2 separate regions of the Homo sapiens genome follow, and region 2 is linked to region 1. The links come from fine-mapping of genetic effects on gene expression. A gene starts in region 1. The other region holds a variant in brackets. All regions are shown on one strand. Distances are from middle to middle.

Region 1 (4,354 bases):
GGAACTAGCATTGTGGGACATTAGGGCCCCCGGCCTCGGGAGAGGTGCCGCCCAGCTTCCCATGCCAGCCCGGAGCCCACAGTGCTGCCCAGCGTACCTCCCTCACCGTCTGGGGCTCTTCTGGGAGCACGGAGCATCCCCTGTTCCTGTTTCACTCTCAGCTTCTCCCCTCGAAGGGACTCTCTGGCCACCTCCTCCACCGCAGTCCAGCTCCCTCAGTCTGGCACCCACTGCTACACTCAGCCTCATGAGCCACTTCAGACCAGCCAGGTGTCTTCCCGGGCCCTGCCAGACCCTGCTCACATTCCCTCTGCTGGTCTGTGCTGGTCTCAGAAGGCCACCGCGCCCGCATTCCACTCAGCCAGGGTCCAGCTGCAGCCCCCGCCACCCTTCCTTCCCTTCCCTGTCCTGGGTCATGTTGTTGCCACCCTGTGTGACTTTTGAAGCTGTAAAATGAGCTTCCAGGGCTTGGGTGGCGTCGGGGCAGGGCCGCCGAGGCTGGGAGGAAGCCCTTCTGCCTTTTGCTGGTGTTTCTGGAATTTGCTTTCCCTCACCTCTCACTTCCTTCTAGAAGGAGCTTCCTGACTGGAACCAGAGAATGCATGTCTGTCCACTTGGTGGCTGCTGGGTGGGGCCGGGAACAAGGGCCCCTGACCCTGTGTGCTGGCCGGGACCTGCCACCAGCCCCCCAGCCTGCTTCTTCCCCTTAAGCTTTGTGCCCCTGGATGCGCTAACATTCACTCTTGTTTGTCCCTGGACTGGCCATGAAGTGAGGAGATGGTTATTTAAAGAGAATTCCCTATTTATTTGACAAAAAATCCAGTTAATATATTAATGTGAAATAAACCCTGTTTGCACCTCGATTTGTTTGCTGAAAATGTGAAATAGTAAAAATGAAATAACTGGACCCTTTCTGGCTCTGCGTGTGGTGACCCGGGGGTCTCTTCCGGAAGGAGAGCCGTCTGGCCGCTGAGGGCCCTGGAGACTTCTGGGACGGTTCCCTCCCATGGGAGGATCCCCATTCTCACGGCCCAGCCAGCCTGTCTGGTCCCCAAGACAGCTCTGGCCTCTGGAGCTGGTTCTTAACGGTTGTCGCTCAGCAGCTGTGTCCCTCCCCCACTGAGTCCCCAGGGCCTGGCTGGGACAGAGGTGGATGTGGCCCAGAGTTGGCCTTGAAGGGAGGAGTTGGGGCTGCCACCTTGTCCCCTGCTGGCTCCTCGAGGAATGGCAGCCCTGGCCTAAGTCCTGGTTGCTGGAGGGAGGAGGCCGAGTCAGCCCTGGAGCACGTCAGGACCTGTGACAGGGACACTGAGGTAGCCAAGCCGGCTTGCCACCACCCACGTCACGTGCCCTGCTGTGAACTTGAAGGGACAGGAGGGTGGGAAATGGCCAAAGGCCGTGACCAGGCCCACACGCCCGCAAGTCCCCCAGCCCAGCACTGGGCACAGGGTGGGCAGGCCACAGAGCTCTAGGAAAGCCCCATGCTGAGGCGCATTTTCCTGTCCCCCGGGAGCCAAGTCTGTCCTCAGGAGAGATCGGGCAGCAGCCCCTCTGCCTCCTCCTCCTGGCCAGCCTGGCCCAGAGCTCTCTGGGACTTGGCTAAGCCCCCTTCAAGGGTGTCTGAAGGGAGCACTGTCCTGACTGCCAAGGTGGGGGCAGGGGCACAGGGCTGTCCCTGCCCAGCACAGCTTGGCCCCGTCATCTCCAAGGAATGTCACCTGTGGGGCCAGGCAGGCTGAGCAACTGGCTGTCCTCCAGGGAGACGCCTCTTGGGAGCCCCCACCCTGGGCGCCACCACACCCCACCCCACCCCGCCCCGCCCCACGTCTGGACGCACTCGAGGAAGTGGGGTGAGAACCCCCCCGGGCCCAGGTCAGCTTCTCTCAGGGTTCAGCCCAGCCTGGGCACAGCACATGGATGGGGCAGGATGCTGCCCGCCTGTTCTGGGCCCCCCCGCCCCCTGCTGAGAGCGTTGTCCCCTTCCCAGGGCCTCTGTAGGAGGGTGGGGCGGGGCCAGGCCTGCCCACGGGGTCCACCTTCTGCTCCAGCCAGAGGAGGGTCCTGTAGGGATCCCAGCTGGGGAAGGTGCAGGGGGCCTGGGAGACTGCCTCTCCGAAGCGGTGAAACCCTCACCCTTCCGTCCCTCCCAGCCACCCTCCCTAAAACTTCCCCTGACAGAGGGTGGCAGCCCCAGGCTCTTTGCATAATCCTGTGGCTTCGCTGTCTTCACCCAGCACCAGCGGACAGGGAAGGGCAGAGAAGGCCACCATGGCGACACTCCTCTCCCATCCGCAGCAGCGCCCTCCCTTCTTGCGCCAGGCCATCAAGATAAGGCGCCGCAGAGTCAGAGATCTACAGGATCCCCCGCCCCAAATGGCCCCGGAGGTAGGAGTGACCTCACTGGGGAGAGAGCTGGCCTTGGGGAGCACTGTGGTCTCGGGTACGGGTGCCCTGCTGTCTGGCCCCACCTCTCGAAGGCTGGGACTGGGGACCAGCGACCCTCCCCTGCCTACTCCACCCTGGGGAGAGCCCCCTGGGCCAGCAGAGCAGGGGCTGCCAGATGGACTCTGGGCCACTGTGGGCCTCAGGCCCTGTGGTCTGAGGCTCTCAGAACCCCTCCCTCCCGGTTGGCCTGACCCCATCCCCTACTCCTCCAGCTTCAGAAGAGCCGACTCCATTAGGTGGGGGTGTCCCTGCTGTGGGGTGAGCTGTTCGGGGAGCAGCAGACCCCCAGGCCGACGTGGCACCCCCCTCACCTCCGCTGCCGAGCCTCACTTCCGCTGCTGGGTGAGGAGCAGCCGCCACTGATAAGCAGAGCTGTTTCCTCTGGGGAAGGGAGGGAGGTGGGGTGCGGGTGCGGAGGGCTCGCGCTGCTGGGCACCCATGGACCTCAGCCACGGCGGGCCCAGGGACGGACCTCCAGGAGGCCTGCTGGGGGAACAGGTGCGGGGCATCACTGGGGCTGGAGGCCGGGGTGCTGGGGCCCCCATACCCTTGGCCTGGATCAGGCCTCAGAGGAGCCATTCCTGTCCATCTGAGCCTGCTCTGGGCCTCCCGGGACACTGCCTTTCCACCTTGCTCTGCAGATCCAGCCTCCATCCCACCACTTCTCCCCCGAGCAGGTAAGAGTCAGAGTGCTGGGGTGCAGAGAGGTGGGGAGGGCGGCTGTGTGTCCTCCTGCCGGCCGACGCTGATGGCAGCAAGCAACTTGCGGTGGGGAGGGGACTCCTGGGTCTCAACTCCCTCCGCTGCACAAGCCGCCCTTGTCCTGCCCATGGCGAGAGGTGTTGGTGCCAGGGGTGGCTGGTGGGGTCCCCAAGGTGACCCCGTGTGTCTTAGCGGGCCCTGCTCTACGAGGACGCACTCTACACTGTCTTGCACCGCCTGGGTCATCCTGAGCCCAACCATGTGACGGAGGCCTCTGAGCTGCTGCGATACCTGCAGGAGGTGAGCCCGGCTCCCACCCCACCCCCCTTCCTGCAGCTGCCCTGTCTGGTGCCCCCAGCCACCCACCCGCCTGCCTCCCCACCAGGCCTTCCACGTGGAGCCCGAGGAGCACCAGCAGACACTGCAGCGGGTCAGGGAGCTTGAGGTAACCTGGGGCCAGGGTCCCCCTGGGCAAGGAGGGGCCTGGGAAGCCCAGCCCCCTCAGGGACTCAGGCCATCCCTCCTGTCCCTCCAGAAGCCAATATTTTGTCTGAAGGCAACAGTGAAACAGGCCAAGGGCATTCTGGGCAAAGATGTCAGTGGTGAGCATGGGGTGGGGTCCCCAAGGGGCTTCTTCCTGGCTCCTTCCTCTCCCATCACAGCCTGGCCCAGGACTCTTGGCGGGAGCACCCACTTCCAAGAAGCCCTGTAGCGCTGGCCCCCCATGCTGCTGGTCCCCTTCCCTCTCCCCCGGAGGAGGCTCAGCCCCGGGCGGGGGTGATGAGGGCCTCTCCCAGGGACCCAGCCGACTCCCTGGCTGCCTCGTCTTCCCCACTCCTCCACAGGGTTCAGCGACCCCTACTGCCTGCTGGGCATTGAGCAGGGGGTAGGTGTGCCAGGGGGCAGCCCCGGGTCCCGGCATCGGCAGAAGGCTGTGGTGAGGCACACCATCCCCGAGGAGGAGACCCACCGCACGCAGGTCATCACCCAGACACTCAACCCCGTCTGGGACGAGACCTTCATCCTGTACGTGGCCGTGCTCCAGCCCCCACTCTATCCAGGTCTTTCCTGGGTAGCAGGGTCTGCCCCAGACAATGAGATGAGTAGGTCGTCCTGGCTCAGGGGAGGGGGTTTGGCCCTGGGCAAAGACTAGAGGAGAAGCCCATCTCCAGGCACGTTAGGTGGACAGTAGGTCAGATGGGACAGA
Region 2 (4,378 bases), 43 kb after region 1:
CCGCGTCCGGCCTGTAATTTTTGTATTTTTAGTAGAGACGAGGTTTCACCATGTTGGCCAGGGTGGTCTCAATCTCCTGACCTCGTGATCCGCCCACCTTGGCCTCTCAAAGTGCTGGGATTACAGGTGTGAGCCACCGCGTCCGGCCTGTAATTTTTGTATTTTTAGTAGAGACGAGGTTTCACCATGTTGGCCAGGGTGGTCTCAATCTCCTGACCTCGTGATCCGCCCACCTTGGCCTCTCAAAGTGCTGGGATTACAGGTGTGGGCCATGGTGCCCGGCCTTCTTTTTTAATTGACTACTGACATTGCTCCTAATGTCCTCAACATTTTGAGACACTGTTCCTGCTGAAAAGCTAACACTCTCAAACAAAAATGTGTTTTATCTGGACACACTTCTCCAGCTGCTGCAGTCAAACACAATTTAATTAACTCAACATCAGTAAATGGCTTTCCTTGCCTAGCTAACAAATGAGCCACTCAGAAACCTGCTTCAGTTGTAGCCTGCAACTGAAACTACAAAAATGTAGTTTTAATTCTTGTGAAGAAATTCTGCTGTAAGGAAATATTCCTAGCTGCATGCAGTGGCTCATCCCCGTAATCCCAGCAACACAGGAGGCGGAGGTGGGAGGATCACCTGAGCCTAGGAGTTTGAGGGCAACATAGCAAGACCCCATCACTAAAACAGTTTTAAAACATTTTTTTAAAAAACTAAGCCAGGCATGCACCTGTAGTCCCAGCTACTTGGGAGGCTGAAGTGAAAGGATCACTAAACCCAAGAGTTTGAGGTTGCAGTGAGCTACGGTTGCACCACTGCATGCCAGCCTGGGTGACAGAGCGAGACCCTGTCTCAAAAAAAAAAAAAAAAAAAAAAAAAAAAAAAAAAGACATCTGTGCTGAAAAAATCCATCAGCATTATCAGACAAAGCACTTATCACAAGATTCCCAGAAAAGCAAGCAATGGTCAGAAAAAAATTTTTAGGTCAGGCGCAGTGGCTCACTCCTGTAATCCCAGCCCTTTGGGAGGCCAAGGCGGGCAAATCACTTAGGGTCAGGAGTTTGACGCCAGCCTGGCCAACATGGAGAATCCCATCTCTACTAAAAATACAAAAAATTACCCAGGCGTGGTGGCTCACACCTATAATCCCAACTACTTGGGTGGCTGAGGCACAAGAATCACTTGAACCAGGGAAGTTGAGGTTGCAATGAGCTGAGCGCACCACTGTACTCCAGCCTGGGCATCAGAGCAAGACTCTGTCTCCAAAAAAAAAAAAAAGGCTGGGGGGAGCCGGGTGCAGTGGCTCACACCTGTAATCCCAACACTTTGCGAGGCTGAGACGGGTGGATCACAAGGTCAGTAGTTCAAGACCAACCTGGCCAATATGGTGAAACCCCGTCTCTACTAAAAATACAAATTAGCCAGGTGTGGTGGCGGGCGCCTGTAGTCCCAGCTACTCAGGAGGCTGAGGCAGGAGAATCGCTTGAGCCCAGGAGGTGGAGGCTGCAATGAGCAGAGATCATGCCACTTCACTCCAGCCTGGGCGACAGAGTGATCTCAAAAAAAAAAGGAAAAATAAATTTTAAAGGAATATTTCCTTCTTTATTTAAATAAAGAGACAGGGTCTCACTCCGTTACCAGGCTGGAGTGCAGTAGTGTAATCACAGCTCATTGCAATCTTGACTCCTGGGCTCAAGGTGTCCTCCTGCCTCGGTCTCCCAAAGTGCTGGGATTACAAGCATAAGCCACCATGCCCAGTCACAGCTATCTTTATTATTGGGTGCTTTGCCACCAAATGTGTTAACAAATAATCCACATGCCACCGAGCCTTAAAAGTAAAATACTTGAAGTGCATTTTTCTCTTCCTCTCTTCTTTTGACATAAGAGGTATGCACTGGTGATGAAGAACGTATAAAACATGGTATGCTGGCTGGGTGCAGTGGCTCACACCGGTAATCCCAGCACTTTGGGAGGTC[G/A]AGGCGGGCGGATCATGAGGTCAGGAGATCGAGACCATCCTGGCTAACATGGTGAAACCCCGTCTCTACTAAAAATACAAAAAATTAGCCGGGCGTGGTGGCTGGCGCCTGTAGTCCCAGCTACTCAGGAGGCTGAGGCAGGAGAATGGTATGAACCCGGGAGACAGAGCTTGCAGTGAGCCCAGATCACGCCACTGCACTCCAGCCTGGGCGACAGAGTGACACTCCGTCTCAAAAAAAACAAAAAATGTGGTATGCTGACACGTGCAGCAATGAGAAGCAATGAGCATCACATATAGTCAGTCTCCTGTTGCAACTACTTGAGTCTGTAGTTGAAGTGCACAAGCAGCCAAGACAACAGAGAAACGAATGAGTGCAGGTTCAAAGGAAGCGTTATTTTATTTATTTTTTATTTTTTGAGACAGAGTCTCGCTCTGTCACCCAGGCTGGAGTGCAGTGGCGCGATCTCAGCTCACTGCAAGCTCTGCCTCCTGGGTTCATGCCATTCTCCTGCCTCAGCCTCCCGAGTAGCTGGGATTACAGGCGCCCGCCACCATGCCCAGCTAATTTTTTTATTTTTAGGAGAGGCGGGGTTTCACTTTATTAGCCAGGATGGTCTCAATCTCCTGACCTCATGATCCGCCCGCCTCGGCCTCCCAAAGTGCTGGGATTACAGGCATGAGCCACCGCGCCCAGCCCAAAGGAAGCTTTATTTAGGGACTCTTTGAAATTCATACAATCGTCACATCACGAAATATCTTTTCAACCATTGAAAAAATGTGAAGGGAGGGCACAGTGGCTCATGCCTGTAATCCCAGCACTCTGAGAGGCCAAGGCGGGTGGATCGCTTGAGCTCAGGAATTGGAGACCAGCCTGGGCAATGTGGCAAAACGCTGTCTCTACCAAAAAAATACAAGAATTAGCCGGGTGTGGTGGTGCACACCTATAGTCCCAGCTACTCAGGAGGCTGAGGCAGGAGGATTCTTTGAGCCTGGGAGGTCGAGACTGCAGTGAGCCAAGATTGTGCCACTGCACTCCAGCCAGGAGGATAGACTGAGACCTGTCTCAAAAGAAAGTGAAAACAATTCTTACCTTGTGGGCCTTAAAAAAGCAGGCAGCAGGCTGGATTTGGCATGCAAGCCGGTTTGCTGACCTCTGCTCTACACTTGGGTTTTTTTGTCTTTTTTTTCCCCTTTTTGTGGAGAAAGGGGGCTCGCTGTATTGCCTGAGCAGGTCTCAAACTCCTGGGCTCTAGCTATCCTCTGGCCTCTGCTCCCTAAGTGCTGGGATTACAGGTGACCTCTGCGCTAAACAGTTGGTATGCCCCATCACATCACAGCCTTACATTTCCATACTTTTGATCATGTTGTCCCCTGGGTCTAGATCACCCTGAGGGTTCCCTGGCCCTGCCTGCCCCCGCTTCCATGTTCCTACTGCACTATGTGAATACTGCTGGTACAGCCACCACAGTGGATTCTGACTGTTTTGTACACTGCCACATCGATCATCTTTGTACCCCTGCACAGAGCTGACCCACAGCAGGTGCTTGAGATGTGGGAAGTGAAAAGAAAAGCAAAAAGCACCCCAAGTGGTAGAAACCTGGTACAAAAGCAGCTCTGCACGAACCCAGCAAAACACAGAGGAGCAACTCCAACCTCTGACTTAGATACATCTCCTGGCAATTAACTCAGTAAGCTCTCTCTTCCACATCACGTCTGCTCAGCTTTGTTCCTCACCTGAACACTAAAATTGAGATCTTCCGCCTCACACACAGAGTCGGTTGCTGGCATCTGGCTCTTTTGTCATTGGTGCTGGGAATGTGCAGAGACCATTACAGATTAACTTTTTTGAAAAAGGGTCTCATTCTGTCACCCAGGCTGAAGTGCAGTAGTGCAATTACAGGTCACTGCAGCCTCCCAGGCTCAAGCAATCCTCCCACCTCAGCCTCCCGAGTAGTTGGGACTACAGGCACCTGCCACCCCACCCAGCTAATTTTTGTATTTTTTTGTAGAGATGAGGTTTCGCCATGTTGCCCAGGCTGCTCTCAAACTCCTGACCTCCAGCAACCCTCTTTTTTTTTTTTGTTTTTGAGATGGAGTCTCGCACTATCGCCCAGACTGGAGTCCAGTGGCCCGATCTCGGCTCACTGCAAGCTCCGCCTCCTGGGTTTGCACCATTCTCCTGCCTCAGCCTCTGAGTAGCTGGGACTACAGGCGCCCGCCACCACGCCTGGCTAATTTTTTTGTATTTTTAGTAGAGACGGGGTTTCACTGTGTTAGCCAGGATGGTCTCGATCTCCTGACCTCATGATCTGCCTGCCTCAGCCTCCCAAAGTGCTGGGATTACAGGCGTGAGCCACCGTGCCCAGCAAGCAACCCTCTTTAGTCTCTCAAAGTGCTGGGAT

The links. PIP is the estimated chance that this variant, and not a neighbour inherited with it, causes the effect. A credible set is the group of variants that fine-mapping cannot tell apart.
Region 2: its variant is the best candidate, but not a certain one, in a credible set for the expression of UNC13D in whole blood (INTERVAL, PIP 0.67).

What each region holds. Positions count from the first base shown.
Region 1 is chr17:75,842,252-75,846,605 of GRCh38, reverse strand. It overlaps UNC13D (unc-13 homolog D), which reads left to right and starts at 2,202. Exons shown (of 32, transcript NM_199242.3): 1 at 2,202-2,385; 2 at 3,087-3,122; 3 at 3,340-3,447; 4 at 3,533-3,592; 5 at 3,683-3,749; 6 at 3,993-4,173. The coding sequence starts at 2,269. WBP2 (WW domain binding protein 2) reads left to right here. Exons shown (of 8, transcript NM_012478.4): 8 at 1-907. RefSeq lists enhancers at 1,263-1,352, 1,483-1,562, 1,981-2,685 and silencers at 1,793-1,952, 1,963-2,022, 2,873-2,932.
Region 2 is chr17:75,798,751-75,803,128 of GRCh38, reverse strand. The region is part of intron 1 of UNK (unk zinc finger); the gene reads right to left. Among named protein-coding and RNA genes, the nearest start is that of UNK, 16 kb to the right of the region's middle. The variant G/A (reference allele first, on the strand shown) is at 1,975.